Regions from separate parts of the Homo sapiens genome. Here all the other regions are linked to region 3. The links come from fine-mapping of genetic effects on gene expression. A gene starts in region 3. Each other region holds a variant in brackets. All regions are shown on one strand. Distances are between the middles of the regions.

Region 1 (8,106 bases), 48 kb before region 3:
ACACACACACACACACACACACACACACACACACACACACACCAGTCCCCACAACAAAAGCCTGCCCTCCTGAGAAAACTACTTTACCAGAGCTTTATCTGACCCTAGGGAGGAGCAATTAAATTAGCCAACTCCAGCCCCATCTAGGCTTCCTGTCTAGTTTAAGGTTTTGTTTGTTTGTTTGTTTAAAAAAAAAAAAAAAAAAAAAAAAAGAGGGTCATAGACCAGGACTCAGGCCCACTAAAAAACTAAGGAGCCAGGTGCAGTGGTGTCTGCCTGTAATCTCAGCTATTCAGGAGACTGAGCTCAGGAGTTCCAGACCAGCCTGGGCAACATAAGGAGACTGTGTCTCAAAAAAGAATAAAAATAAAACTAAGATTTAACCATAAGGTGGCATACGATGCTTCTGCTCTCCTACACTTTACCACCTCATCAACAATGCTCCAATATAATGACAGTGGATTACAAATAAAAAAGCTGCAAGACACAGATTTTGAGTTCAATAAAAGTTCTTGGGAAACCCCAAAGACAGTGAGAGAATAAGGAGAAACTGAAGCCTCTAGGACCTGCAGCTAAAAAACACGTTAAACACAGCCCATCTCCCAACTAGATTAACATATAACCTCATAATAGAAGCCTAAATCTTCAGTCTTTATTACCTGATACTTCATGTCTGGCTTTCAGCAAAAAATTACAAGCCATGCCAAAAGGCAAGAAAAAAATAGACTGAAAAGACAAGGCAAACAACAGAACCAGACTCAGATATGATATATTTCAGAATTAGAAAATAGGAAATTGATCCAGGAAGAGGACAGAACACCAAGCAGGATAAATACCAAAAAAATCCACACTAGGTATATATTATAGCCTAGCTGCAAAGTAACACAAAAAGAAAATCTTGAAAGAAGCCAGGAACAAAACACTTTTACCTACAGAGGAACAAAGATAAGAATTACACTGGACTTCCCATTACAAATCATGCAAGCAGCTGGGAGCAGTGACTCATGGCTATAATCCCAGCACTCGGGGAGGCCGAGGCAGGTGGATCACTTGAGGTCTGGAGTTCGAGACCAGCCTGGTCAATACGGCAAAACCCCATCTATACTAAAAATACAAAAATTAGCCAGGCGTGGTGGCACACACCTGTAGTCCCAGGTACTTGGGAGGCTGAGGCAGGAGAATCACTTGAACCCAGAAGGCAGAGGTTGCAGTGAGCCAAGATCGCACCACTGCACTCCAGCCTGGGCGACAAAGCAAGGCTCCATCTCAAAAAACAAAGCAAAACAAAAATCATGCAAGCAGGAAGGAAATAGGGTGAAATGTTGACAAAGCTGGAAAAAAGAAAAAAAAACCCCACCAAACTAGAATTCTGTATCCAGTAAAGTTATCCTACAAAAGAAGTAAAGACTTTCTTAGCCAAAAACCAAGGAATGTTGTCGCCAATACGTCAGCAAAAAGGAAAATGATATAGGTCAGAAACTCAAATCTACATAAAGAGAAAGAGTATCAGAGAAGGATAATAAGGTAAAATAAAATCTTTTAGGTGGTTATAGTATATAGATAAGGGAAACAAATGACAGCAATGTATAAAAGAGAGGAGGAATTAGGAATACGCTAAGGTAACTGCACTATCCATGAAGCAGTATAATATCTGAAAGTGGACTTAGCTTAGTTGTAAATGTACATTGCAAACTCCAGGCAGCCACCAAAAAACACGTTTAACAGATATATTAAGAGAGTACAGAAAACGCAATCAAGTAAAATGTTCAATTAAAATTGGAGAAGGCAGAAAAAGAGGGGAATATAAAAAAAAAAAAGTACAAAAAAAAAAAAAAAACACCAGAAAACAATTATAAGCATGGCAGCTACAAATCCAATTATATCAACAATCACTTTAGATGTGAATGACCTAAATACACCAATTAAAAGAAACTGTTGGCCGGGCACAGTGCACATCTGTAATCCCAGCACTTTGGGAGGCAGAGGTGGGTGGATCACCTGAGGTCAGGAGTTCGTGATCAGTCTGGCCAACATGGGGAAACCCCGTCTCTATTCAAAATACAAAACTTAGCGGGGCGTGGTGGCGGGTGCCTGTAATCCCAGCTACTGAGGAGGCTAAGGCAGAAGAACCATTTGAATCAGAGAGGCGGAGGTTGCAGTGAGCCGAGATTGTGCCACCGCACTCCAGCCTGGGTGAGAGAGTAAGATTCTGTCTCAAAAAAAGAAATTGTCACAGTGGGTTTTTAAAAAATAGAGCCAACTATATGCTATCTATTTTAAAAACTCCACTTTACAAAGACAGACACAGGTTAGAAGTAAAGGTATGGGAAAAACATACCATGCCAACACTAATCAAAAGAAAGCTAGAGTAGCTATGTTAATTACAGACAAAGCAGTTTTCAAAATAAGGAAACATAAAAACCACTTCAGAACAAAGATTAAGAGTTGCATTACACCAAAATATGTGAAGCAAAAATTGAACTCCAAAGAGTAACAGACAAATCCACTATTATACTGGGAGACCTCACACCTCTTTATAGGTAGCTGACACACCCAGCAAGTAGAAATCCAATAACATAGTCGAGCTGAACAGCATCAACAATCAAATGGATCTGACATTATAGTATATTTCATCCAACAACAGCACAATACATACTCTTCTCAAACTCACAAAGAACATTCACCAAGGTAGACCATATCCTGAGCCTTAAAATACACCTTTAAAAATTTTAAGGGATAGATAATACAAAGTATGCTCTCATACCACAACAGAATTAAACTATTACTAGAAATCAGTAACAGAAACACAGCTGGAAAACTCCCCAAATAGTTGGAGTTTAAAACAACTCACCTCAAAATGACACAGGAGTCAAGGAAATCTCAATAGAAATTTTAAAATATATTGAACTAAAGGAAAATGAAAATACTACCTATTAAAATATATGAAATGCAGCAAAAACCATGATTACAGAATTTATAGCATTAGATGCATACAGTAGGAAAGAAAATAAGATCTAAAACCAATACTCTAAGCTGCCATCTCAGGTAACTGGAAAAGAAGAGCAATATAAACCTAAAGTAAGATGAATAAAATCAGAGCAAGAACTGATGAAATTGAAACAAGAAAACAGAAAATCACAACAGAAAAAACAAATCAGTGAAACAAAAAACTGATCCTTCAAAAAGATCAATATAATTAACTGAAGAGAGAGGGGAGAAAAAAGATAAGACAAACTAGTATCAGAAATCAAAGAAGAATCTTCATTACTAATTCCTTGAACATTAAAAAAATAAAAGAATACTAAGAACTCTATGCCCACAAAGTTAGTAACTTAGTTGAAATGGAGCAATTCTTGGAAAGAAACAAACTACCAAACTCACACAAGGAGAACTAGATCATCTATTTAAAAAAAAAAAAAAAAAAAGGCCAGGCGTGGTAGCTCATGCCTGTAATCCCAACACTTTGGGAGGCCGAGATGGGCAGATCACCTGAGGTCAGGAGTTCAAGACCAGCCTGGCCAACATGGTGAAACCCCCATCTCTACTAAAAATACAAAAATTAGCCAGGCATGGTGGTGGGCGCCTGTAATCCCAGCTACCCAGGAGATTGAGGCAGGAGAATCGCTGGAACTCAGGAGGCAGAGGGTGCAGTGGGCCAAGATCATGCCACTGCACCCTAGGAGACAGAGCAAGACTCCATCTCCAAAAAAAAAAAAAAAAAAAAAAAAAAAAGATCAATAAATAACCTTCCAAAAGAAGGATTTACAAAGCCCAACTGACTTCACTGGAAAACTCTACCAAGCATTTAAGGAAGAAATGGTAGCAGTTCTCTACAAATTCTTTTAGAAAATAAGCAGAGGGAATACTTCCTAATTAATTCAAAGTATTACCCTAATACCAAAACCAGACAAAGATACTACAAATAAAGGAAAACTGCAGACCAGTATATAT[C/G]ATGAATATAAATGCAAAAATCCTTGACAAAATATTAGCAAATCAAATCTAACAATGTACAAAAAGAATTACACACCATGATCAAGTGGGATTTACTCCAGGAATGCAAGGCTGGCTCAACAACTTAAAGTCAATAAATGTAATCCATCATAACAATAGTCTAAAGAAAAAAAATCAGCTGGGCATGGTGGCTCACGCCTGTAATCCCAACACTTTGGGAGGCCAAGTCGGGCAGAATACCTGAGGTCAGGAGTTCAAGACCAGGCTGGCCAACATGGCAAAACCCCATCTCTACTAAAAATACAAAAATTAGCCAGGCACGGTGGTATGCACCTGTAATCCCAGCTACTGTGGAGGCTGAGGCAGGAGAATCGCTTAAACCCAGGAAGCAGAGGTTGCAGTGAGCCGAGATTGTGCCACTGCACTCCAGCCTGGGTGACAGAACAAGACTGTCTCAAAAAAGAAAAGAAAGAAAAAAAAAACACATGATAATATCAATAAATACAGGAAAACTATTTGACAAAATCCAACATTCATTCAGGATTTAAAAAAAAAAAAAAAACTCCCAGCACACTAGGAATAAAGAAAAACTTCAATTAAAAAAAAATCTACAAAAAATCCTACAGCTAACATAGTAGTGAGAAACTAGGTGCTTTCTAGAAACTAGGTTAGAAAACAGACAAGGATATTCATTATTTATCACTTGTACTCAATACTACCAGAGGTTCTAGCTGGGACCATCAGCCAAGACACAGAAATAAAAGGTTCCCAGGTAAGAAAGAAAGAAGTAAAACAATCATCATTTGCAGATGACATGATGTTGTATATAGAAAACTCGAAGGAATCCGCTAAAAAAATTATTGGAACTAATGAACAAATTCAATTTGTTTCAAGGATACAAGATCAATATGCAAGTCAAGTATATGAACTATACACTTGCATGAACAATTCAAAAATGAAATTAAGAAAGCAATTCCATTCATAGTAACATCAACAAAAGGAATAAATTGAAGAAAAGTGCAAAACTTATACTCAAAAACTATAAAAAAATGTTTGGATCTAAATAAATGGAAAAATATCCCATATTCATGGACTGTTAGACTTAATATTGTTAACACAGTAGTATTTCCCAAATTGATCTTTCAGATTCAACCAATCACTGATAGAATCCCAGCTAACTTCTTGTAGAAACTGAGAAGCTAATTCTAAAATTCATATGGGATTGCAAGGAACCCAAAATAGCCAAACAATCTTGAAAAAGAACAAAATGGGACTCACTTCCTCACTTCAAAATTTACTACAAAGCAACAGTAGTGAAGACAGCGTGATACTGGTATAAGAACAAGACATGGCCGGGCGTGGTGGCTCACGCCTGTAATCCTAGCACTTTGGGAGGCAGGCAGATTGCCTGAGCGCAGGAGTTCGAGACAAACCTGGGCAACACGGTGAAACCCTGTCTCTACTAACATACAAAAAAAAACTGGCCAGGTGTGGTGGCTCATGCCTGTAATCCCATCACTTTGGGAGGCCGAGGTGGGCGGATCACGAGGTCAAGAGATGGAGACCATCCTGGCCAACTCGATGGTAAAACTCGATCTCTACTAAAAATACAAAAAGTAGCTGGGCATGGTGGCGCACACCTGTAGTCCCAGTTACTCAGGAGGCGGAGGCAGGAGAATCACTTAAACCCGGGAGGCAGAAGTTGCAGTGAGCTGAGATTGAACCACTGCACTCCAGCCTAGCAACAGAGTGAGACTCTGTCTCAAGAAAAAAAAAAAAAAAAAAAAAAATTAGCCGGGCATGGCAGCGCATGCCTGTAGTCCCAGCTACTTGGAAGGCTGAAGCAGGAGAACTGCTTCAACCCAGGAGGCAGAGGTCGTTGCAGTAAGCCAAGATCGCACCACTGCACTCCAGCCTGGGCAACAGAGCAAGACTCCATCTCAAAAAAAAAAAAAAAAAAATAGAACATGTATACAGATCAATGGAATAGAACTGAGAGTCAAGAAATAAATTCATATATCTATAATCAACTGGTTTTCAATAAGGTATCAAGAGCATTCAATAGTGGAAGTGTTGAAAAGTCTTTCCAAAAATGGTGCTGGGACAAATAGATACATAACCAAAAAATGAAGGAAGAACCCTCTTTCACATCATTATTATGACATATACATATATAAATATATTTTATGTAATTAACATTATATATTAATATGATTATAGCATTATTCCTAATAGTCATAAAATTGCAAACAAACCAACTGTCCATTAACTGATGAATGGATAAAGTGTGGTATATCCACACAAGAGAATATTATTCAGCCATAAAAAGTACTGATACATGCTATAATATGGATGAACCCTGAAAACATTATGCTAAGTGAAGCCAGTCACAAAAGACCACATTTTTTAAGATTCAACTTACATGAATGTCCACAGAGACAGAAAATAGATTAGCGGTTCCTTCAGGTTGAGGGTTTGGAGAAAGGATCTGGGGGTAACAGCCAAAGGGCTGTCACAGGGATTCATTTTGAGATGATGGAAACTTTGTTTCTTTTTGAGACTGTGACTTGCTCTCTCCCAGACTGGAGTGCAATAGCACAATCAGGGCTCACTGTAACCTCAACCTCCTGGGCTCAAGACATCCTCCTGCCTTAGCCTCCTGTGTAGCTGGAACTACAGATACACACCACCACGCTCGGCTAATTTTTTGATTTTTGTAGAGATGGAGTCTCCCTATGTTGCCCAGACTGGTCTCAAACTCCTGGGCTCAAGCAATCCTCCCACCTCGGCCTCCCAGAGTTCTGGGATTACAGGCACGAGCCACCATGCCCCGCCAATGGAAACATTTTTAAATTAATTGGGGTAATAGTTGCACAACTCTGTGAATATACTAAAAACCACTGAACCGCACACTTTAAGTGAATGACTTATATGGTAAGTAAATTATATCTCAGTAACACTGTTAAAGGAAAAACAAAAAATCAAATACCTTTAGTGTACAAGTTCAACAAAGACTCCTAGTCACACAAAACCCACTTGTATAACACTACCAGAGTCCAGGGGAGAATGAATGGCCCACTCAAGTTTCTGTTGACTGTCCATATACTAGTACAATGTGACATAAATCTTATGCCTTGAACTTGCTTCTTGATGAAAGAATTATGGTATACATTCTCCAATCTATACAAAATGTATCCTATTAAAGGAAAGAAATTTGTGAGAACAAAGAAATTCTGAAGCCAGGCTCAATGGCACATGTCTTGTAAGTCCCAGCTACTTGGGAGGCTGAGGCAGGAGGATTGCTTGAGACCAGGAGTTCAAGGACAGCCTGGGCAACAGAGTGAGACTTGATCTGAAAAGAAAAAGAAAAAGAGAAAGAAAAGAAATTCTGAACTAAAATTTATAAGCTGGGCCACGCACAGTGGCTTACACCTACAATCCCAGCACTTTGGGAAGCCAAAACAGGAGGACTGCTTGAGCCCAGGAGTTCGAGACCAAGCTGGGCTAAAAAGTGAGGCCCTTCAGGGTCGATCACCTGAGCCCAGGAGTTTGAGGCTTCAGTGAGCTGTGATTGTGCCTCTTCACTCCAGCCTGGGCAACAGAGCGAGACGATATCTCTAAAAAAGTTAAAATAATTTTTTAAAAAATGTACAAGCTAAATAGCAAAATTGTCCTGGCAGAGTGAGGGAAGGAGGTAGGGAGTTAATTACCTTAAAAAAAAAGTCTCCTCCAAAAACAGTTAGTATTAACACAAAAGGAACTTATATTATACAAGATGGCTTAACTCCCTAAATGTTCTAAAACTGGTGGTTGAGTAGTCAGTGTTTATGAGTAACAGTTTGTTGCTTGAGGTATTTTTCAATAAATAGCCTAAATAAAACCAGTTACTTTAGAAACAGTTAATGTAACCTACTGGAACAAAGAGTTTGGAATGAAAAAAGATCTGTAATTTATGTTCTCTCAAATCCAAAATGGAAATATGTGATGATAGGGGTGCCATAATATTTATGATACTGCAAAAGAGGCAATACATACATTTGGGACTTAAAGCTGGAAAAGCTGCAAAGGACAGAGTATTTTCAGGCAACAGGTTCAGGAACGTAACCAAGAAAGTCTCTCCTAAAATGCTGCAATAAGGACTTCAAACAATATTGT
Region 2 (8,106 bases), 95 kb before region 3:
TTATGATGCAGAGATATGTGTTCACATGTTTTCCTGCTGACCCTCTCTCCACTATTACCCTATTGTCCTGCGACATCCCCTTCTCCGAGAAACGCCCGATAATGATCAATAAATACTAAGGGAACTCACAGACTGGTGCTGGTGTGGGTCCTCCGTATGCTGAGCGCCGGTCCCCTCGACCCACTTTTCTTTCTCTATACTTTGTCTCTGTGTCTCTTTCTTTTCTCAAGTCTCTCGTCCACCTGACAAGAAGCACCCACAGGTGTGGAGGGGCAGGCCACCCCTTCATCACTTGAACACTTAGAGGTCATCGTAGAGTTATTAATTGGCCTAATTTCAATGTTGTTGTGTCTCAGGGAAAAGGGAAGCCTGAGGAGAGGGAGAGTGATGGGGGAAGGCCAGTGGTTGGAACATTCGGAACACACACAACATGTATCAATTAAGTTTGTCATCTTCTTTGGGCACAGTTTGTAGTGCCCCAATTACAATAGTAACATCAAATATCACTGACCAGAGATGATCATAACTGATATAATAATAAAGAAGATGTTTGAAATACTGCAAGAATTACCAAAATGAAACAGAGGCACAGACTGAGCACATGTTGTTGGAAGCATGATACCAATAGACTTGCTTGAGGCGGGGTTGCCACAAATTTTCCATTTTAAAAAAAAGCGTGATATATGCAAAGAACAATAAAGCAAGGCACAATGAGATGAGGGTTGCCTGGCCCTATCTATGCACCTTCGTTGGAGCAGCCTAGGCTTACCTGAGGAGTCAACACAATTTGCATGTGTGGGGCAATACTAAAGGGAATATAGGTAAGTAGCAACGGATGTGACATAGACAATGGCTAGAGGACTCCACACAAGGGAAATATCAAATGGGCCTGACCTCTCAGGCATGAAGAAGCTGAGCCTTGGGAGACATAGATATGAATCACCTACACAGAACGTGAGCATTTCACACTGGGGGAAGTGAATGAGTAGAGACAGATGGAGCACTGAGCATGCCCTGAGATGCTCTGGAGAGAGAAGCAGCTTTTCTTCTGTTTGATAAAGTTGATCCCACCTTGCTTTTTTTTTTCTTTTTTTTTTGAGACAGGGCCTCTCTCTGTCGCCCAGGCTGGGGTGCAGTGGCCAGGTTGGTTTCAAACTCTTGGCCTCAAGTGATCCGCCCACCTCGGCCTCCCAAAGTGCTGGGAATCCAGGCAGGAGGCACCGCACCCAGCCCCACCTTGCTTAAAGACTCTGTAATAGCTACCTTAATGATATGCTAATTTTCCTCATGTCATTTCTACTGGACCTAAACCTATAATTATATCCATTTATCCCATGAGGCCAATTACAAAGTCGAACCCTAGAGAAAACACATACCAAAACCAAAAAAAAAAAAAAGCTTTTCAAATTTTGCTTATTTACTCAGAAAACCTGAGTAATACTATTCGTGAGAATGGATTCTGTGGATGATAGATCATGCTAGATTGGGCTACATTGTAACAAGAATTCACTTTAGAGATTCCAAAGTTAAATGATTAGGCAAACTAGGAGAGGTTCTAATGGTTTGCCCTAGGACATAATTCTAATTATGTCCTAAAATCTGGACTCAATAGTGACCTACACTAAATAAAGTTGAGATGTCAGGAATTCCTGAGTACAATGTAAAAGACTGTCTCCCCAGCCACTCCAGTGCCTGCTTGATAGCTTCAGGAACCCCGTCATCATGGAAGGAGGAATGAAGGGGACACTTGGGCTCAGCAAACAGACTTCACACCGAAGCTAATCTGCCTACGACCATGGCTGAGAGCCCAATCTGTCAACTCTGAGCTTCCAGTACGGTACAGGAACCCAAGGAGATTAGTTTGGCATCTGGTTAGAAGGTTACAAAGAGCCGGGCGCGGTGGCTCACACCTGTAATCCCAGCACTTTGGGAGGCCAAGGCAAGCGGATCACCTGAGGTCAGGAGATCGAGACCATCCTGGCCTATGAACATAGTGAAACCCCATCTCTACTAAAAATACAAAAATTAGCTGGCTGTGGTGGTGTGCGCCTGTAATCCCAGCTACTCAGGAGGCTGAGGCAGGAGAATTGCTTGAAACTGGGAGGCGGAGATTGCAGTGAGCTGAGATCACACCACTGCACTCCAGCCTTGCAAGAGATCAAGACTCTGTCTAAAAGAAAAAAAAAAAAAGGTTACAAAGAACCACTTTCATCACAGAAATGCTGCAATTTCTCTCCACTGAGACACTCATTCTGGCTATGGATTAGATTCCCCTGCATGGTATCCTTTGCAGACATACTAAATACCTTAATCATGACCATAATATTCCACCCAAAGGTGCTTTTATTTATTTATTTTTGAGACAGAGTCTGGCTCTTGTCGCACAGGCTGAAGTGCAATGGCACGATCTCAGCTCACTGCAACCACTGCCTCCTGGGTTCAAGCAGTTCTCCTGTCTTAGTCTCCCGAGTAGCTGGGATTACAGGCTCCTGCCACCACGCCCGGCTAATTTTTTTGTATTTTTAGTAGAGACGGGCTTTCACCATGCTGGGCAGGCTGGTCTCGAACTCCTGACCTCAGGTGATCCGCCTGCCTTGGCCTCCCAAAGTGCTGGGATTACAGGCGTGAGCCACTGCGCCAAGCCCCAAAGGTGCTTTTTATGAAGAAATTTATTTTACAACGAAAGTAATAATGCAATAAGCCAGTGCTCACAGGATATATGGCAAGACCAGTGAATGCTTTTGCTGTGAAGCAGGTAACTTTATAGAATGGCAGAATGGCCTTCTGAACTCTCCAGTACCAGCCAAGAGACAGCACTTTGTAAAACTGGGTGTTGTCCTACCATGTGCAGGACACATGCTGTTAACAGGAATCGAATGGTATTTCGCCAACAACCAGAATTTATGTCTGGGTATCAATAAATAAAAGTGAGTGTGACAACTTCCACTTTAGATTTTTCGATCCAATTGCAAAATGTTTGTTTGCCATCCCTGTGATTTTAGATTCTGCTAGTTTAGAAACATGAATGTCCAAGAGAGAAATGTTTCATCAGAGCAATGCTTCTACCAGTTGAGGCTGGCACTCACCATTTCAGGCTCCTTACACAAAATCACTAAACAAGCAAATAATGGGTAGGGGCAGGGGGGAGGGGCAGTGTTACCATTTTATCTGAGGTCATTGATCCTGAGCATCAAGGGAAAATAGGATTTGTACTACATGAAACAGGCAGGTAGGAATGTTTGGAAATTAGGGGATCCTCTGAGGGCTCTTCTCATACTGCCTTGTTTAATGGTGAAAGTTACCAAAGGACTAGAGCAACCCTAGAGAAGTAGAGGACCATCAAGGGCTCCAATCCCTCAAGAATAAAGGTTTGGGTCACTCCACCAGGTAAAGCCAAAGGTGTGGCTAAGGGCAATGGGAACAGGAGATAAGTAAAGGTCAACTATGGCCTTATTTTTCTCCTTCCTTGGTGGGTTTTAAATATATAAGTATGTATACTAATTCTTTTTATGCCCCTTCATCCTTCTCCAATTATTCTATATAATTGGTCAGTTACTTTTACAATTTATATATAATTTTCGGGATATAAAGATGGAATGGTAAACATCAAACAAAAATCTTGAATTTAGAGCTAACTGCAATAAATTGGGATCTGGGGCTTCCTCTTTTGAGGAGGGAGTAGCATGTTTTGTATAAGGGATAGTGGCATGGCTGTTCAGGTTGGAGATGTGAAGATAGAGTAAGGGTCTATGTTGACCTTGCACAGCCAGAAAGTGAACTGCAGGGAACTCCGTCATTTGAGCCTACTTTGAGTCTTTCAAACACACTCTCCCCACTTTAATCACTCCCCAAGTGTTAATCCTTCATCCCTCATATAGAATAATTTTTATATAGTGCATTGAAATTAGGCTATCAACAGGTGTATTAGCTTCTACCAATCAGAGATACATACACAAGACTTTATTTTGAAAATGAGTTTTCTATGGCTAGGCGCAGTGGATCATGCCTGTAATCCCAGCACTTTGGGAGGCCAAGGCAGGCCGATCACCTGAGGTCAGAAGTTCGAGACCAGCCTGGCCAACATGGTGAAACCCTGTCTCTACTAAAAATACAAAAATTAGCCAGGCATGGTGGCAGGCACCTGTAGTCCCAGCTACTCGGGAGTCTGAGGCAGGAGAATCACTTGAACCCGGGAGGCAGAAGTTACAGTGAGCTGAGATTGTGCCACTCACTGCACTCCAGCCTCGGCGGCAGAGTGAGACTCTGTCTCAAAAAAAAAATGAAAATCAGTTTTCTGAGAAAGACCAAGACAGGTATTTCACTGGCTCAAGGGCAGCAAAGGCAGCCTGGTGATGAAGTCAGTGGTGATGGCAGCTGTTTCCACCACCCACGGCAGAGGCTATGTTATGGCTCCAGTTCTTTTACATGCTCAATTTTGAGGTATGGTTCTGGGAGCTTTCCAAAAAGGTAAGCCTAGCTTCTCTAAAACTTCTGTGGGTTTCAAATAGCCTTTGTGCTTCCCTTCCT[A/G]CTTAAATTATCTAGCATGCATTCCACTGTTAGAACAAGGAAGGCTGATGCATATAGGAAAGTTTCATAGCTGTGCGCCTGTGGACAATTGGCCCTGCCACTCTCAGCCTCAGTTTCCTCATCTTTGAAAACTTTCAAGCACTGTTGTAAAAATTAGAAACGTTACAGGCAAAGTAACTTATATCTAGGAAATACTTACATCATGACTTCTCAATTCATCAAAATATATTCAAAGTCTACTTCTTTTCATGTGACCCAGGGTCATTATTATCGTGCACCTGGACTATTTCAGTCACTTCTTAATTAATCTTTTTCTACTCTATCCCCTCCTTACCCTCAAGTCTATTCTCATCACAATAGCCAAGATGACCCAATCAAAATTTAAGTCCACTTCAGTCACTCTTTTGCTCAACATGACCTAATGGTTCCCAGTTTCCGTCCTACTAACAATTCCTTTCAACAGCCTACAGGACCTCCAAGGCCATGCCCCCTAATACTTCCCCGATCTCATCACTTTCTGCCCGTTGTTCATTCCCTCCTAGTCAGACTCACCTCCTTCCTATCCTTTTAACATGATACCCACACTCATTCTGCAGGCCTTAGCATGCCTGTTCCTTTTCTCTGGAATACTCTTCCCCAAAATATTTGCATGGCTCATTGCTTCATCTCCTCCAAGTCTTTGCTCAAATGTTGCCTCTCAAGAATGCTTACCCTCACCATCCTATTTCAAATAGTAAACCCTCGCACCCCCAGCACTCCTCATCCTATTCTATTTTTTTCTATAGCACTTACCACATTCTAACAAACCACTGAATTTACTTTATTACATTTTTGCCTGACTTTCTACAAAGACTGACATTTTTGTCTCTTTTATTCTTTGACATTTCCCTAATGCCTGTAACTAGTACCTGATAAATATCTGTGAAATGAATAAATTGATCAAATGAATAATTACTGCTCCTACAACTGCTATCCTCCTGCATACAACATATGGTACCATATAAATATTTGGTATTTATACATGACATATGGTACCTAATAAATACTTGTGGAATGAATAAACTGAATGATCAAATGAATGAATGAATGAATGACTGTTTCTATAATTGCTGTATTACTACTACTGCTACTACCACTACTGCAGCCCTCTTCCTTGGCCCTTCCAACTTCATTTTCTACATTCACCTTGAAAAATTCTGCCTGAGCAAGAAGTCAGATTCAGAGCAGGAAGTTACTGAGTCAACAGCATAATCTTTCCTCAGGTTCCTACAACTGTAATGATAACTATCTCAAGAACACAAAGCTTTTAATTCTGAAATGCAATTTTGTTTGGGGGATAGGAGAAAGAGAAGGTAGAAGGAAGGTACTGGGTGTTTTCATTTGTTTGTACTAAAACATGCCCTGGTCAATGAAACCTAAAATGATTCATGCTAGATGTGCAACTTGTAAAGAATTAAGAGGTAAGGTAGATGGATCCCCCTTAAATTTTGAGAAAATCAGTGATGCATAGAGCTCATGCCACCCAACGTGGCAACGCACATGAATACTAAGTTCAACCTCTTGTAGTGGATGGTCAGGGACATTGGTGATAACAAAGATATTCATGAGACAACTGGGGAAATTTGAATGCTGACTGGATATTTGATATTAAGTAATGATCTATTATTTTAGGATAAAGGTATTGTGGTTACTGATATATGCTGAAGTATTTATGAGAGAAATGATATAATACCTGGGATTTCCCTCAAAATAGTCAAGCTTCAGATGGGGGGAATGGAAGTGTGTAGATAAAACCAGACTGCGTATGTGCTGATAACCATTTAAACTGGGTGATGGGTACATGAAACTTCATTACACTATTCTCTCTACTTTCATGTTTGAAAATCTTCATAGTAATGTCTTTAAACATCCTTTTAAATCTGCCAGGCTATAGGTAGATTTAAAAATTTTCTGACTGACAATTGGTTGAGTTTATCTGAAGACCTGGGATAAATAGAAAGGAAATGTCTGGGTTAAGATAAAAGATTGTGGAGACCAAAGTTCTTATTTGCAGAGGAAGTCTTCAGGTAGCAGGCTTCAGAGAGAATAGGCTGTAAAACGTTTCTTATCAGACTTAAAGTCTGTGTTGATGTGAATGCCTGAGAGGTTTAATGAGGCATGTCCGACCCCCACTTCCTATCATGGCCTGAACTGGTCTTTCAGGTTTAATTTTAAGAGTGCACTGGCCAAGGACAAAGTCCATTCAGATAGTTGGGGGACATCTTAGAATTTTATTTTGGGTTGACAGCTGAGTACCTATTTCAGAATTGTGATAATGCAGTTGAAGATACTCTAGTCAGGGCTCTCCGCTCCTCCCATTTGACAGACAGCCATATCTTCTCGTGTAGCACCAGCCACATCCTGAGATACCATGGTTAAGGTGAAGGCCAGAGTCAACAGATTTGGCCACATTGGGCACCAGATCACCAGGGCTGCTTTTAACTCTGGTAAAGTGGATATTGTTGCCATCAGTGACCCCTTCACTGGCCTCAACTACATGGTCTACGTGTTCCAGTGTGGTTCTACCCATGGCAAATTCCATGGCACTGTCAAGGCTGAGAATGGGAAGCTTGTCATTAACGGAAATCTCATCACCATCTTTCAGGAGCGAGATCCCACCAAAATCAAATGGGACAATGTTGACGCTGAGTACATTTGGGTGTCCACCGGTGTCTTCACCACCACAGAGAAGGCTGGGGCTCACTTGCAGCAGGGAGCCAAAAGGGTCATAATCTCTACTCCCTCTGCTGACGCCCCCATGTTCATGATGGGCGTGAACCATAAGAAATATGAAAACAGCCTCAAGATCATCAGCAATTGCCTCCTGTACCACCAACTTCTTAGCCTCCCTGGCCAAGCTCATCCATGACAACTTTGGTATTGTGGAAGGACTCATGACCACGACCCACACCATCACTGCCACCCAGAAGACTGTAGATGGACCCTCCAGGAAACTGTGGTGTGATGGCCACGGGGCTCTCCAGATCATCATCCCTGCATCTACTGGTGCTGCCAAAGCTGTAGGCAAGGTCATCCCCGAGATGAATGGGAAGATTACTAGCATGGCCTTCCGTGTCCCCACCACCAATGTGTCGGTCATGCATCTGACCTGCCATCTGGAAAATCCTGCCAAATATGATGACATCAAGAAGGTGGTGAAACAGGCATCAGAGGCCCCTCAAGGGCATCCTGGACTACACTGAGCACCACGTTGTCTCCTCCAGCTTTAACAGTGACACCCACTCTTCCACCTTCAATGATGGGGCTGGTATTGCCCTCAATGACCATTTTGTCAAGCTCATTTCCTGTTATGACAATGCATTTGGCTACAACAACAGGGCAGTGGACCTCATGGCCCACATGGCCTCCAAGAAGTAAGACCCCCAGACCACCAGCCTCAGGCCCTCAGCTGCTAGGAATCCCCTATTGCACTAGGTCTCCTACCACACTGAGAATCTCCCCTCCTCACAGTTTCCATCCAGACCCCCTGAAGAGGGAGGGGTCTAGGGAGCCCCACCTTGTCATGTACCACCAATAAAG
Region 3 (8,106 bases):
AGGATGTTAGTCTTTTATGACTTAAAAGTTGTTTCTAGTAACTATCATCCGACCATACACCACACAGCCATTTGTCTCAGAGTAGGTAGTGAAGGTGGCTACTTAAATACACACATTTTTAAAAAACTGTATCCAAGTTTAGCAATATGTGTATATACCCAAGCACACAGAGACACGTTCCATAACTTGGAAAATCATCTGTAAAAGTTATTTTGGCTTTGCACTTCTGAATACTTCATGCTTCTCCATGACCATAACAAACAGAATTGTTCTACTTCCTTTACTAATTGTTCTACTTCTTTCTATAATATCTACCAAGTATTATCCTATTGCCATCATATTTTCAGGTTGGTACTTTCTTCCTGCTATCCTTTTTATGGGGGAGACAGAGTTTCGCTCTTGTTGCCCAGGCTGGAGTGCAATGGCATGATCTCGGCTCACGGCAACCTCCACCTCCCAGGTTCAAGCGATTCTCCTGCCTCAGCCTCCTAAATAGCTGGGATTACAGCCATGCGCCACCACACCCAGCTAATTTTGCATTTTTAGTAGAGAGGGGGTTTCTCCATGTTGGTCAGGCTGGTCTCGAACTCCTGACCTCAGGTGATCCACCTGCCTCGGCCTCCGAAAAGTGCTGGGATTACAGGCGTGAGCCACCGCACTCAGCCTGCTATCCATTTTTAAAGCCATAGAGAAAGCCCTCGAGTGTTGTGTATCATGTGCTGTGTGGAGGACTAACGGATAGGAAGAAAACTACTAAAGTAATGAATTCACTGTGGAATCAAGTTCAGTTATTCTATGTTCACATCTACATTCCTTAAAGTAAATAACTCTCAAATTTTCTAGAAAGTAAATAATACACCTGGACTTTGAAAACCCAAAATGTCTACAAAATCAGAATACCATTACACGTTAAAAACAAGAAAGAAAAGAAGAAAGCTGCTTCCCTGCACCTATCTGGAGAAAATCTTTGCGCTGTAAAGCTCTAAACCACCATTACCAAAAAGTTTAACTTCTACTCCTATGCCTTACATTTCTGGCTCTTAACTTTTTAAGGGCCTGACAAACAGCTTTGCTGACAATTGTGTGTGTCAAACAGGTCTTCCAAATGACCATCAACAATTTTTTAATACATCTTGCTATGAAGTCCCAAAATTTAAAAAATATATGTTGAACTCCATCCAGCATTATCAAACTAGTTAATCAGTCTCCCCGTACTCTTAGCAGCTAGCTGCCTAATACCAACTGTGGAAAAAGCCTAATTTTGGAAAAGGTCTAACAATTTCAAGAAAGTTACTTATACTTGTGAATATTCCAAAACTTTAAAGTTACAATACAGTCACAGAAAAACGAATCCTGAAATACACCTATGTGCACTCGACTTAAGGCCATAATCTTATTTTCACTCAGGGTTTCTTTTCCCTATAATATCTTTACTGTAAGGCAGCTACTTCTCCCTAAATAATTTCGAAGAATTTCAAAACACTTTACTAAATAGATTTAATCATATCTACAGAATCCTATCAACTTAAAAAGCCAATAAAATGAGTACTTATTTGCTTTCTAAAGATCCTACATTCCTAAAAGAATAAACACAAAGCCTCTCCCTAACACTAAACTACTCAAGTGACACTTGACCCCAACTTGGTTTTTGAAGCTATTTCTCCAGGAAGCAGAGGGAGACAAAGAGTTTCTACACAGTCAAAAATAGATGAGTCCTTTTCATTCAGTCTGTTTCTTCTCACTTTAAACACAAATCCTACCAAGCTCATTTAGTTTTTAACTCATTAATGAGTGACTCGGAGCAAATTAGCAGGTACAGGGACTGTTTTAGGCAATCATTTGCTAGGAATGGCTATCAAGTGAAGGTCTTGCTGATCCGTCCTAAAAAACAAAGGACAAAAACCTATGAGTAGCAGACAAAAGCATTTATTAAATAATAAATGGTGGGCCCTATTTCAACAACAATCTGAAGAGTATCATCTCTTCTCAAGATACCACAGCACAACAACGTTCACAACCATAACTGAAGTATAAATTTATGTTTCTTCTAATAAGGTAAATACATAGAATATTTTGAAACTGCATCTAAAACTCTTACCTCAAAAAAAGGAAAGAAAGAAAGAGAAAGAAAGAAAAGAACACACACTTCTTCCCCTAGGGTCCAACCAAAAGAGCGAAATTAATCCATCCGCATTCCAAAACAATTAATTACTTAAGAAATCCAACCAGCACACATCTAAGGCGAAGCTGCTTCTTTGGTAGTTTTTTATTCTACAGAGTGCTACCACTGTACAAACAGTCAAGCGTTTTGGTTGGCAGACAATAATAAAATAAGCTTTATTTCCTTTTCTTCTTCCCTTAGCAAAACTCCAGTCTGTCATCACCTCTGACATGCGCCAAGAACTACCAGGAATGATGAAGTATATTTCAAATAAACTTTCCTATTAAAGTGAGTCCTTGTGGTTAACATCATACCAAAATGCTTTACATTTTATCCAGCAAAACCTTTACACACCGTAAAAAAAGAAATCTTAAGACACGAGCTCGTATCTGTATTTAATAATAAACTCTTATCTTGGCCGTACTTACCAAATCGTAGGCTTTTACTATTTATAAGCCTTTGAAAAAACTTTATGCCTTTCTTAAGTACCATCAAAATTTTCAATCAGGATTTCATGCGATCAATTCGCACCACAGTGAGAGATCAAACGCTAAACTCCTATAAATAGGGGTGTTATGAGTGAGAGGGATACACTGCGCTGCCAACGCAACTGCGTCTTCGAGGGGGCAGGGGCGCTCCTGGTACACGTACAGTAGGAGCTCACATTCAGCAAAACCAGGGAGCCAAGGATCAGGTGACTTCACACTACAGACACTTTCAGAGTGATCAGGCCTTACTATCGTCCAAGTGACTCGTAAACGGCTCATAACCCCAGTTTGACACGAAAATCTAGACTTGCACCCTAGCCACGCACAACCCGCGCGAATGGGTTCGGGAGCCGAGGAGCCCCGAAACGCGAGCCCGGGGACAGAGCCCTGGCCTGCGGACTGCGGTTCCCTCCAGGAAGGGTGTCTAAGGAGCTTTCGGACCCGGCAGCAAGGTGTCTGCTCCCCGCGCGACCTCCTCCTCCGCGGGGCCCATCATGCCCTGGCCACCCCTTCCTCCCTGTCCGCGTAAGGGACAGCGAACGCCCACCAGCTAACGGGTCGCCCCGCCGCGTCCGGAGCTCGCCGGACGGAGCGGAGCCGCAGCCGACCTCCCCGCGCCCCGGGCAGGCGGCCACGGCTCAAGGCCGCCCCCTAAGGTCGGGGCGGACACGGCGGCAGCCACGCGGCGGGCTGGCGGGCAGGGGGCCGGGCCGGTCGCAGACGCGCGCGCCACTGGTTCTCCCAGCAGCTACTGGAGCCGCGGCCCACGAGCCGCCCTTTCAGGCCGCGCGCTGCGGGAGCGCGGGGCGCGGCTGAGGCTAGGCCCGGCGGGCAGGCGCGGCGGCGGGAGGAGACCTGAACCAGCCGCGGACTCCGACCCCGCCGCCTGCGGCCGGTGCCCGCGAGCCCGAGCAGCGAGCGTCTCTCCCCATCAGGGCCCCGCGGCCTCTGCCTCGCTGGCCCGTACCTAGGGAGGTCGTGGACGAGACGTGGTTAACCGCGGCGCTTGGGTCGCTGGTCCGTCGCCGGCGCCACAGCCCCTGGTGCGGTTGCTGCCCTCGCGCTGCCTCGTCCCCCTCCGCCATCTTGTACCGATTTAAAATTAACTCCCCACTGACGTCAAACGCCGCCGCCGCTTTATCAACCTCCCGGGAGCCGGCGGGGTGGCCGGCGGGTCCTAGCGCCGCTCTCCGCCTGTATCTCCTCGCCCTCCGCCTGTATCTCCTCGCCCTCCGCCTGTATCTCCTCGCCCTCCCTCCGCCCCCGCCCCGCCCATCGCTCGCTCGCTCCGCCCTCGCCCTGCCCGCCTGCAGATCCGTCTCCCCGGCTCCAAGTTTCTGGTTGGACTGGGGCGGGGGTGTCCCTGCCGCCGCCGTCTCACACCCCCACCTCCCTGAGCTCAGCACCACACCCCCTTAGCGCTGGGCCAGGCTCTGCAAACGCAGAAGGGAGCTCCAGAGAACTAAGTCCCTCCCTCCCAATTCGCTTTACATCTCTAATCGTTGATTCGTGCGTCCTGCACGTGAGGTGGCTTTCGCACCCCTTCTCTCCTTTTCATCGCCCCCTCCTCATCACAGCCATTCCCCTCCTCTCTCCCCATCCACCCCCCAAGTTGTTGCCAGTGCCCTGCTTTTCCTCTTGATCTTTTCTTTCCTCACCCAAGTCCCTACTGTTGCTTCCCCTCCCCCCCACCATCCTAAGGTTTGTTTGCATTCGCTCCCCATCTACTTATGAGACCTTCCCCCATCTTCTCAACTGTGTATACCCTGGCCCTGTGCTCCTAGCACCTTGCAGAGGCATGCCAGAAAGCACTCTAATCGGAAAATGAATCGTGGCAGGTTCTTACCTAATTGTGATGAACCTTCTTCTGGGGATCCAGTGACATCCAGTAGAAAGTTCAGGTCACTTTTTAAATTACAAGTCAGCCCGTGGAGGCGTCTGTGAAACATGATCCCTTTGGATTTTTACCATACTGCCAGCTGCATTAGAAATTCCTCTTCTCCAGTAAAAACAGATGTCCGGGTGTACAAACAGCTGTTTTGTCCAGGTCTTTTCATAAGTCTAAAATTCACAGCATGCACAATCTCTAGAAAAGCACTGGTGTTATTAAAGCTTTCAAAATACCATTCTAGGTAGGGCATGGTGGCTCACGCCTCCCGGGTTCAAGCAATTCTCTGCCTCAGCCTCCGGAGTAGCTGGGATTACAGTCCCCCGCCACCACACCCTGCTAATTTTTGTATTTTTATAGACACGGGATTTCACCATCTTGGCCAGGCTGGTCTTGAGCTACTGACCTCGTGATCCACCCGCCTCAGCCTCCCAAAGTGCTGGGATTACAGGCGTGAGCCACTGCGCCCGGCCCATCCAAATATATTTCAACAGAATATGGAGTTTGTCATCATTGTCACATAAATCTAGGAGAATAACTATATACGTGTTCTTGGCAATATTCTTTGAGTTACTAAGATTCTAGTTCTGGGACTTGAACCACCTCCACAATCTAAAGTACAGTTACCCTTCCCCCTCGTTCATATTGATGGCAGGATCTTTATCAACTTGTTAAGTGATATTCCTCTTACGTCCTTGTGATATATGATTTGGAGAGCTCACTTTGTCAAGACATTTTCTGTTTTATCATTGGCCTGAAAAACGTAGTATTGAAAAGGAAGAAAAAGAAGAAGCAGAAGCAGAAGAAGGAGGAGGAGGAGGAGAAGAAGGGCAAAAAAATCTTCACGAGGATTGTTCTACAAAGATTTATTTACTGTCATTTACTCACTAAAAAACATTTGCTTAGGCACATAGAAAAAAGAAACCATTTACAAACAGCACAGCATAGGCCATTTGCTAAATTAAGGTTGATACAGTCAGTGACAACAAAAAGCTACCTGAATCCTTACCAAAGTGCAGTGTTCACCTAAGCCAAATCACCCTCTATGCTTAGTATAGGCAGTCCTTTGGAAGATATTGAATATCTTACATGTAATAAAAGACCTTATGGTTTCCCTCACTGTGCCTTCGATTTTAAGGACTTCAATTCTATCTACTAATCTAGGCTGCTACCCCATGTGTTTCGTGTTTTGCTTTGCTTTTCTCTTTTCTTTTCTTTTTTTTTTCCTTGCCTATGTTCTTCTCTTTTTGGTGTTCTGCCTATCTTGGCTCCCAAACCCACTCTCTCCCCCATCTGTGGTTACTATGCCTGAATCAAGAGAGGTCAAACGCTTATTTAAAAAAAAAAAAAAAAGGCTGGGTGTGGTGGCTCATGCCTGTAATCCCAGCACTTTGGGAGGCCGAGGTGGGGCGATCACCTGAGGTCAGCAGTTCAAGACTAGCCTGGCCAACATGGTGAAACCCCATCTCCACAAAAATACCAAAATTAACTTGGCATGATGGCGGGTGCCTGTAATCCCAGCTACTCGGGAGGCTGAGGTGGGAGAATCACTTGAACCTGGGAGGTGGAGGTTGCCGTGAGCTGAGATCGTGCCATTGCACTCCAGCCTGGATGACAGCGTGAGACTCCATCTCAAAAAAAAAAAAAAATAGGCTGACCCTGGGTACACTGCCTGTGAGTTAGCCCTACTCCGCAAGGAGCAATACCATTCAAAAAAGACTGCTGCTTAACACCACCAGCTCAAAAAAAAAAAGAATTAATTAATTAATTTTTTGCTGTCCGGAAAAAAGTCAGTGATTCCTAAGGAAAATTTTTCCTTGCCACCTCTCAGGGAGACATTCCGTCTTATAACTCTTCTATGGGAAAGCACGGGGTACTGAGAATATGAGAACTGACAAGAACTTGCCCTACAATCATTTTAACCTTCATGGAGATGGTGTAAGATAGAAGGAATGGGCCAGGCGCGGTGGCTCATGCCTATAGTCCCAGCACTTTGGGAGGCCAAGGTGGGTGGATCCCTTGAGCTAAGGAGTTTGACACCAACCTGGGCAACATAATGAGAGCCTGTCTCTACAAAAAATACGAAAATTAGCCAGGCACGCACCTGTAGTCCCAGCTATGGAGGAGGCCAAAGTGGGAGGATTGCTTGAGCCCATGAGGTCGAGGCTGCAGTGAGCCAAGATCACACCACTGCACTCCAGCCTGGGTGGCAAAAAAAGAAAAAAGATAAAAGGAAAGTTCCTCCCTGTGAGAGGTAGAGATTTAGATATCCATTAGTGGAAACCACTCACTTGCCTGGGGTGATATCAGATGGACGGGGCAAGGTTAGAGTAGAGAGAAGCCAAAGACAAATATAAAGCAGTGTTGTCAATAGAAAAGGTGTTGGATATTGCTGAGGCTGAAATGAGATAAACTACACTCTCCGAGAATGAAAAAGGCTGTCTTTGTTGTGGGCAAACTGCATCTCTGCAGACCTTGTTATCTTTTCAGTGATGCGTTTCCTGAAAGTTTTGTTTAAGCTACACCATGCTTGCAAACTGTTGCTCCTTTTCTTGTGCAAGAATGGTTGACAGAAATGAAGAAGTTGTTTCTCTGAGACTATGTGAAATTCTGGACGCAGGCAGAGCTGCTTCAGGGCCAGGTTACAAAAAGCAGAACAGGGCTAGGAAATTTTCCTCACAGACCTGAAGCACTGGAGGTACTACAGAGCAACGAGCTTGACTCAGTCGCCAATATTCTCATGATGGACTCTGTAGGCTCCGTTCGTTGACCTGAGGGGTACAGACCATTGATTTGTCCCAGAAGTTGTACAGTGACTGTGGCTAATGAACCGATTTGCCACAGGCGAGGCTTCCTTTGGGGGAGGGGCCAGGGAGGAAATATTTTGTAGGGACAGAGGGAAATCGGAGTTCCTGCTAGAGTAGATGTGGACAAGAAAATGGACTCTAGTCTTGGCTTTATGTTTGTACTTGAAAAGTAAGTAAATAGAAGAGAATAGAATAGGGACTCTGGGTTATTGACTGGCAGAAAAATTTTATTTATATCCAAAGCTAGTGATTCAGGGTCATTGGGATAGACCTTCTAAAGGAGATTAAATTAAGAACATCAAGAATTGCCAGGTGCAGTGGCTCACGCCTATAATCCCAACATTTTGGGAGGTCGAGGGCGGGGTGGGGGGGCGCGGATCACAAGGTCAAGAATTCAAGACCTGGCCTGGCCAACGTGGTGAAACCCTGTCTCTACTAAGAATACAACAATTAGCCAGGCATGGTGCCTGTAATCCCAGTTACACAGGAGGCTGAGGCAGGAGAATTACTTGAACCCAGGAGGTGGAGGTTGCAGTGAGCCGAGATCCCACCGCTGCACTCCAGCCTGGGCAACAAAGCAAGACTCCATCTCGGAAAAAAAAAAAAAAAAAGAAAAGAAAAAAAAATCAAGGGTTTCTGTGGCTAATATTTGTTGTAGGAGCCTGGACATGGGCGCATACCTCTCTGGCACAGCCATTCATGCTGATACTTGCAGGCATCTTCAAAGGCATGTATTAGCCCCATATGAAACACTGTGAGTAG
Region 4 (8,106 bases), 26 kb before region 3:
CCCAGGCTGGAGTGCAGTGGTGAGATCTCGACTCACTGCAACCTCTGCCTCCTGGGTTCAAGCCATTCTCCTGTCTCAGCCTCCAGAGTAGCTGGAACAACAGATGCCCAATGCCTCGCCAAGCTAATTTTTGTATTTTTAGTAGAGACAAGGTTTCCCCATGTTGGCCAGGCTGGACTCAAACTCCTGACCTCAGGTGATCCACCCATCTCAGCCTCCCAAAGTACTAGGATTACAGGCATGAGCCACTATGCCTGGCCCTGCCCTTACCTAGTTTATAAGCAAATATGATAATCAAATAGCTTGGGGAAATACCTCCGACAACTCAAGAGTATTAAGTATACGTAACACAAAAATTCCATAAAAATTATGAAGCTTGGCTAGGCGCGGTGGCTCACGCCTGTAATCCCAACAATTTGGGAGGCTGAGGAGGGCGGATCACCTAAAGTCAGGAGTTTAAGGCCAGCCTGACCAACATGGAGAAACCCCATCTCTACTAAAAATACAAAATTAGCCAGGAGTGGTGTTGCTTGCCTGTAATCCCAGATACTCAGGAGGCTGAGGGAGGAGAATTGCTTGAACCCAGGAAACGGAGGTTGCGGTGAGCCAAGATTGCGCCATTGCACTCCAGCCTGGGCAACAAGAGCGAAACTCCATCTCAAAAAAAAAAAAATTATGAACCAAGTAAAACACTTTAAAAAAGAACTCAAAAGTAATAACTGCTAAAATATCACAATGACCAAGTGTGGAGGTTGGTGATTTTGCTAAAACAAACAATAGTTTTGCTCTTATTGTAAAGAAAGCATTAGTTGGTTTTTTAGAAGTTTAAGAAAAAAAAAAAACCCAAAAGCCAAAATTGACAAATGGTATCTAATTAAACTAAAGAGCTTCTGCACAGCAAAAGAAACTACCATCAGAGTGAACAGGCAACCTACAAAATGGGAGAAAATTTTCGCAACCTACTCATCTGACAAAGGGCTAATATCCAGAATCTACAATGAACTCAAACAAATTCACAAGAAAAAAACAAACAACCCCATCAAAAAGTGGGCAAAGGATATGAACAGACACTTCTCAAAAGAAGACATTTATGCAGCCAAAACACACATGAAAAAATGCTCATCATCACTGGCCATCAGAGAAACGCAAATCAAAACCACAATGAGATACCATCTCACACCAGTTAGAATGGCGATCATTAAAAAGTCAGGAAACAACAGGTGCTGGAGAGGATGTGGAGAAATAGGAACACTTTTACACTGTTGGTGGGACTGTAAACTAGTTCAACCATTGTGGAAGTCAGTGTGGCGATTCCTCAGGGATCTAGAACTAGAAATACCATTTGACCCAGTCATCCCATTACTGGGTATATACCCAAAGGACTATAAATCATGCTGCTATAAAGACACATGCACACGTATGTTCGTTGTGGCACTATTCACAATAGCAAAGACTTGGAACCAACCCAAACGTCCATCAATGATAGACTGGATTAAGAAAATGTGGCACATATACACCATGGAATACTATGCAGCCATAAAAAATGATGAGTTCATGTCCTTTGTAGGGACATGGATGAAATTGGAAATCATCATTCTCAGTAAACTATCGCAAGGACAAAAAACCAAACACCGCATGTTCTCACTCATAGATGGGAACTGAACAATGAGAACACACGGACACAGGAAGGGGAACATCACACTCTGGGGACTGTTGTGGGGTGGGGGGAGGGGGGAGGGATAGCATTAGGAGTATACCTAATGCTAAATGACAAGTTAATGGGTGCAGCACACCAGCATGGCACATGTATACATATGTCACTAACCTGCACATTGTGCACATGTACCCTAAAACTTAAAGTATAATAATAAAAAATAAATAAAATAGGAAAAAAAAAACCCCACTGGGCAGAAAACCTTTGTTAACTCGAAAATTCACCTATATTAGTTGGCCAGTCACTATGCAACCAAGTTTATTAGCACAGACAAAGACAGGCCTTTCAAATAGACAGAATGTGTCTACATATTTGTCACCATATCTAGTCTACAGCCTTTTACAGAGAAGGGTAGCAAATAGATTTCAAAAGTATAATGGAGCCTAACAATGATGTGATACACCTGCATCTATCTACTTACTCCCCATGGTGATTTCTCTACCAAATATGGACTAAATACAGATAAAGTACTCCATCAAACACTGATATAAGCAAATGAATAAAAGAGAATTGTATGTAAATTTCATTAGGATACCTGTAAATACTGTACTAGCATTTAGTGATTGCCTACAATTAAAAGTCTCTAAATTCCACACCACTCTAAGATTTTAAACTGAAGTTACGTCCTGTGTATAGAATAGTGATTTTATTTCCATTCTTCAATGCCAAAAATTTACTAAGACAAGTAGATTTCAGCCCCCCAACACATTTTTGTGATTCACAGTTCCAAGTCAGTTTTCCCTACGCTAGCCCCCAGATGGGTCTTTCAAGGTCAAAGCTAAAAGACACCTAAAGATGATCACCTGCTTCTCAAACATCTCTCCACACATTAACACTAAGGTACCTACCTAATATCTATTTGCCACACGGCCTAACAAAAGAAAGGTGTCTTAGTAAAAGGACCTGTGATTGCCAGGGGTTAGGGGGATAGGGAGGGATGAACAGGCATAACACAGAAGATTTCTTAGGGCAGTGAAACTATTCTCTATAATACGAAATTGGTTGATACCTGTCATTATACATCTATGAAAAAAACCATTGAATATACAACCCCAAGAGTGAACCATAATGTAAAACTATAGACTTTGGATGATAATGATGTGTTAGTGAAGGTTCATTGATTTTAACAAAAGCACCACTGTGGGTGAAACGCTGATGGCGGGGGACAGTGTGTATATGGAGTGGCAGGGAGTACGTGAACTACAATTTCGCTTCATATTGCTGTGAAGCTAAAATTGCTCTAAAAAAAAAAACCAAAAAAGTCTATTTAAATAAGACACCTGTCTTTTTGTTGTCTAATCACACATTATCTTAAATCTGCCAAATTCAGACACTCAGCATGTATTCCAACAGCAAAATTTACACTTCAGGGCTGACCTAGATCCTCAGCAAATTTCAAGCTTAATTATAAACTAAGATAATAAAAAAGTGCTACAAATCTTCATTATAATAAAATGTAGCATTAATGTTAGATTACATCAACCCAAAACTAAACTTATAAAAAGAGAACAAAGAATAATTCACCTTTCAAAAGGAATGAAAAGTATATTTTATTATTCACATTCCAAACAAAAACTTGAAACAAATTTTCATGGAAAGTAACCTTGATTCAGTCTATTCAGTCTACTTATAAAAAAATTAGTTATCCCACAAAAGCTAAGTAACGTGTTAGTGCCTAGTACTTGAACCTCAACATTTATATTTCATACCCAAGTGAAAACAGTATCTAAGTATTCAAGTTTATTCTAGCACATATTTTTTAAGAGCCTTAAAGAGGTTATACGATGGTTAAATATATTTCTAGGGATTTATTATAAGGAAATAAGGACACTAATTTTATTCTGGTGGCAAAAATTAATGTTGCGTACCTCAAAACTGGAAAGTGGCCGAACAGTTATTTTAGCCATATACTGACATATTATGCAGCCTAAAAAACACATTTACACTCTAAAAAAATTATACATATATATATTTAATTTTTTTTTTTTTTTGAGACAGAGTTTTGCTCTGTTGCCCAGGCTGGAGTGCAGTGGCACGATCTCGGCTCACTACAACCTCCACCTCCCAGGTTCAAGCAATTCTTCTGTCACAGCCTCCAGAGTAGCTGGGACAACAGGCACCTGCCACCACGCCTGGCTAATTCTTTTGTATTTTTACTAGAGATGGGGTTTCACCTTGATCAGGCTGGTCTCAGACTGCTGACCTCAGGCGATCCACCCGCCTCCG[C/A]CTCCCAAAGTGCTGGGATTACAGGCGTGAGCCACCTCACCTAGCCAAAAAAATCTATGTATTATTTTAAACAGCATAAAATTGGCCGGGTGCAGTGGCTCACGTCTGTAATCCCAGCACTCTGGGAGGCCGAGGAAGTCAGATCACCTAAGGTCAGGAGTTTGAGACCAGCCTGGCCAACATGATGAAACTCTGTCTCTACTAAAAATACAAAAATTAGCTGGGTGTGGTGGCAGGCCCCTGTAATCTCAGCTACTCGGGAGGCTGAGGCAGGAGAATTGCTTGAACCCAGGGGTGGAGGCTGCAGTGAGCCAAGATCGCGCCATTGCACTCCAGCCTGGGCGACAGAGCAAAACTCTGTTTCAAAAACAAACAAAAACAACAACCAAAAAAAAAAAAAAAAAAAAAAAAAAACCACCATAAAATCAAGTGGGAAAAGGGCAGACTACAAAGTAGTAAAAATCACCCCCAATTCTATTTTGCATTTTTTAAAACACAGGTATTTGGGGGAGGGAGGATATTTGAGACTTCTAGTCATTAGAGTAACTGGTATCAGACTGGCCCTCGACCGTGGCTATAAAATTAGACAAAATACATGAAGCATTGTTTTTCAAGCAATGGACAACAAGTAGCACAAGGACACTTTCAAGGTGAGTGCCATGATCACTCCCAGCTCTCTGCCTGGGAACAATTTCCTAACTATAGAGTGAAGAACTAGAGCACAAAGATCTGAATTCAAGATTGCTAGAGCAGTAGGAATCTGTGAGGCAGGATACCAGAGAAAAAGGATCTATGCAGAGGTGGAGCCCAGAACTCCTTGGACAAGGACAACAAGCATCACAGGTGCAGGGGAACACAACACTATGCAATGCTTAACAGAAGGAAGCTACTACAGGGTTGAGAGAGAAACAGAAGTCAAACATTACTGAGACACTTTGGAGTTCTGGCCCAGCCAGAGTGGAAAGAAACATCTATACCTTAGGCATCAAGCTGAGACACTAGAATCGACATATCTTAGAATTAAGGGTCAAGTTCTAGAGTAAGGCCTACTGACAATCCATCCAATCAAAGCCTAAATAAAACCAAGACTTGAAAAGATCTGCAAGGTACACAGTTTGGAAATTTAGTCCCACTAAGTTAGGGAGATTTCCTCTAAGCTTTCCACAGACCCACACTAACGAAGTATGAAGCAAAGCCAAGGTCAAGATCCATCAGTAATTAACCTGCTTGCCAAACCAAAAACAAGCTAAGAGAATCCAAAATCTCTACAATGCATAACATTTAATATACAGTATATAAATCAGAAATTACTAGACATACAAAGAAAGAAGGAAATGTAGCCCATAGTCAAGAAAGAAAAGCAGTTAACAGTACCAATTCTGCCATGACCCAGATGCTGAATTTAGCAGACAAATGCTTTTAACCAGATACTGTAAATACGTTCAAGGACTTACAGGAAAATAAAGTCTTAATAAATAAATAGATGAGGAGTCTCAGCCAAAAAACTATAGAAACTATTAAAAAACAAATGAAAATTCTAGAACTGACAAGTACAGTAATTAAAATGAAATACTCACTGGATGGACAACAGCAGACTGTAGGTAACAGAAGAAAGTTTGTAAACTTGCAAAGAGATCAAAAGAGATTTTCTAATCTGAAGTACAGAGAGAAAAAAGAATAAAGAAAAACTAAGAGAGTCTCACGAACCTATGGAACACTATCCAACCTGCATTTAGAATCCCAGAAGGAGAACAAAGTGAGGCTGGAGCTGAAAAAATATTTGAAGAAGCAATAGTCATAATGTTACCAAAATTTGATGACAGAGATTTACAGGTCCAAAAAGCTCAGCAAACCTCCAGTACGGTAATACAAAGAAAACCACATCAGCCAGACTGCTAAAAACCAAAAACCAAAGATAACAGGACACAGAGCAGAATATTCAAGTAATTATTGTATAGTTATGTAATAATTATACAATTATACAGAGCAGAATAATTCAAATAACTGCTGCTTATCACATCATCACTGAAGCACTGGAGGCCAGAAGACAAGGGATTGATAGCTTTAGAGTGTTTTTAAAAGAAGTGTCAACCTAGACTTTTATATTCAGTGAAACGATCATTCAAAAATGAAAGCAAAATAAAGACAGCAAAAGCAAAAGTATGGCCGGGTGCGGTGGCTCACGCCTGTAATCCCAGCACTTTGGGCGGCCAAGGTGGGCAGATCACGAGAGGTCAGGAGATCGAGACCATCCTGGCCAACATGGTGAAACCCCGTCTCTATGAAAATACAAAAAATTAGCCGGCGTGGTGGCACGCACCTGTAATCCCAGCTACTTGGGAGGCTGAGGCAGAGGAATCACTTGAACCCGGGAGGTTGCAGTAAGCGAAGATCGTGCCACTGCACTCCAACCTGGCGACAGAGCAAGACTCTGTCTCAAAAAAAAGCAAAGAGTATCTGTCATTAGCAGATGTGCATTACATGAGAGCTATATAATGTTCTTCAGGCTGAAATGAAACATTATCAAATGGAAAGTCTCTTTATTCCTTCCTATTGATCTGAATCCAAAATAGTAAACAGATACAAATATAAAAGACTGGTTCTTTCTTCCAACTAATCTCCCTAAAAGATAATTGATCAATGTGGGGTTTATAAAGTATGTAGAAGTACAAAATTTTAAAAGACATGTTATGAGGCAAAGTAAATGAAATTACACCCTAAGGTTATGATTTTAAAGTGGAAAGTGGTAAAACATTGATTCTAAATAGGCAGATATATTAAAGATGAATATCATTAGCCCTAGAGTAACGGCTTTAAAACAAACAAAAAGAAAAAAGGTATAGCTTAAAAAGCCAATAAGGGGCCAGGTGTGGTGGCTCACGTCTGTAATCCCAGCACTTTGGAAGGCCAAGGCAGGAGAATCACCTGAGGTTGAGAGTTCGAGACCAGCCTGACCAACATGGAGAAACCCTGTCTCTACTAAAAATACAAAAATTAGCCAGGTGTGGTGGCACATCCCTGTAATCCCAGTTACTCGGGAAGCTGAGGCAGGAGAATCCCTTTAACCCAGGAGGCGGAGGTTGCAGTGAGCCGAGATTGTGCCATTGCACTCCAACCTGGGTAAGAAGAGCGAAACTCTTTCTCAAAAACAAAAACCAAAAAAAGCCAATAAGAAACCAAAATAAAATAGTAAAAAATATTCAATGAACCCAAAGTAAAAAATAAGAACAAAAGACAAAAGAGATGAATGAAAAACACGCAAGATGGCAACCTTAAACCCAACTAAATTCAATAATTACATCAAATATAAATACACTAAACACTCCAATAAAAACGCAGAGACTGCCAGACTGGGTAATAAAAGCAAAACTATATACTGTATTTCTTTGTTGTTTTTGAGATGGAGTTTCGCTCTTGTTGCCCAGGCTGGAGTGCAATGGCACGATCTCAGCTCACTACAACCTCCGCCTCCTGGGTTCAAGCAATTCTCCTGTCTCAGCCTCCCGAGTAGCTGAGATTACAGTCGCCCTCCACCATGCCCAGCTAACTTCTGTATTTTTAGTAGAGACAGGGTTTCATCACATTGGTCAGGCTGGTCTTGAACTTCTGACCTCCCTCATCGGCCTCCCAAAGTGCTGGGATTACAGGCGTGAGCCACTGCGCCTGGCCATACTGTATATTAGAGATGTCCTTTTAATAAAAAGACAGAGCTTGGTTCAAGTAAAGTTTCAAAGTAAAAGGGGAAAAGGTATACTATACAGACATTAATCATAAGAAAGCTAAAGTAGCTACATAAACATCAAAGCTGGCTTCAAGACTAAAAGCATACCACATATAAAATGTGTACTCATCAGAAAGACATAACAATGCCAAGTAAGAAACTCAAAATACACGAAGCAAAAATTCAGAGAACTAAAAAGAAAAACAGATAAATGCATAGTCACATTTGTTTGGTTCTTTTTTTTTTTTTTTTCTTTGAGTCTCGCTCTGTCACCCAGGCTGGAGTGCAGTGGTGCCATCTCGGCTCACTGCAACCCCCGTCTTGCAGGTACAAGCAATTCTCCTGCCTCAGCCTCCTGAGTAGTTGGGATTACAGGCACGCACCACCACGCCTAATTTTTGTATTTTTAGTAGAGACAGGTTTCACCATTTTGGCCAGGCTGGTC

What was found.
Region 1: its variant is fine-mapped to the expression of ATL2 in whole blood (TOPMed, PIP above 0.99).
Region 2: its variant is fine-mapped to the expression of ATL2 in whole blood (TOPMed, PIP above 0.99).
Region 4: its variant is fine-mapped to the expression of ATL2 in whole blood (INTERVAL, PIP above 0.99).

The regions. Positions count from the first base shown.
Region 1 is chr2:38,325,720-38,333,825 of GRCh38, forward strand. All of the region lies in intron 2 of ATL2 (atlastin GTPase 2), which reads right to left. Among named protein-coding and RNA genes, the nearest start is that of ATL2, 48 kb to the right of the region's middle. The variant C/G (reference allele first, on the strand shown) is at 3,952.
Region 2 is chr2:38,278,473-38,286,578 of GRCh38, forward strand. It overlaps the pseudogene GAPDHP25. Among named protein-coding and RNA genes, the nearest start is that of ATL2, 95 kb to the right of the region's middle. RefSeq lists an enhancer at 1-546. The variant A/G (reference allele first, on the strand shown) is at 4,528.
Region 3 is chr2:38,373,527-38,381,632 of GRCh38, forward strand. ATL2 (atlastin GTPase 2) reads right to left here and starts at 3,747. Exons shown (of 13, transcript NM_001135673.4): 1 at 3,617-3,747. The coding sequence starts at 3,734. RefSeq lists enhancers at 2,839-3,340, 3,341-3,840, 3,667-3,916 and silencers at 3,167-3,666, 3,887-4,046, 4,117-4,166.
Region 4 is chr2:38,347,807-38,355,912 of GRCh38, forward strand. The region is part of intron 1 of ATL2 (atlastin GTPase 2); the gene reads right to left. Among named protein-coding and RNA genes, the nearest start is that of ATL2, 25 kb to the right of the region's middle. RefSeq lists enhancers at 3,744-4,244, 5,717-6,218, 6,219-6,718. The variant C/A (reference allele first, on the strand shown) is at 3,941.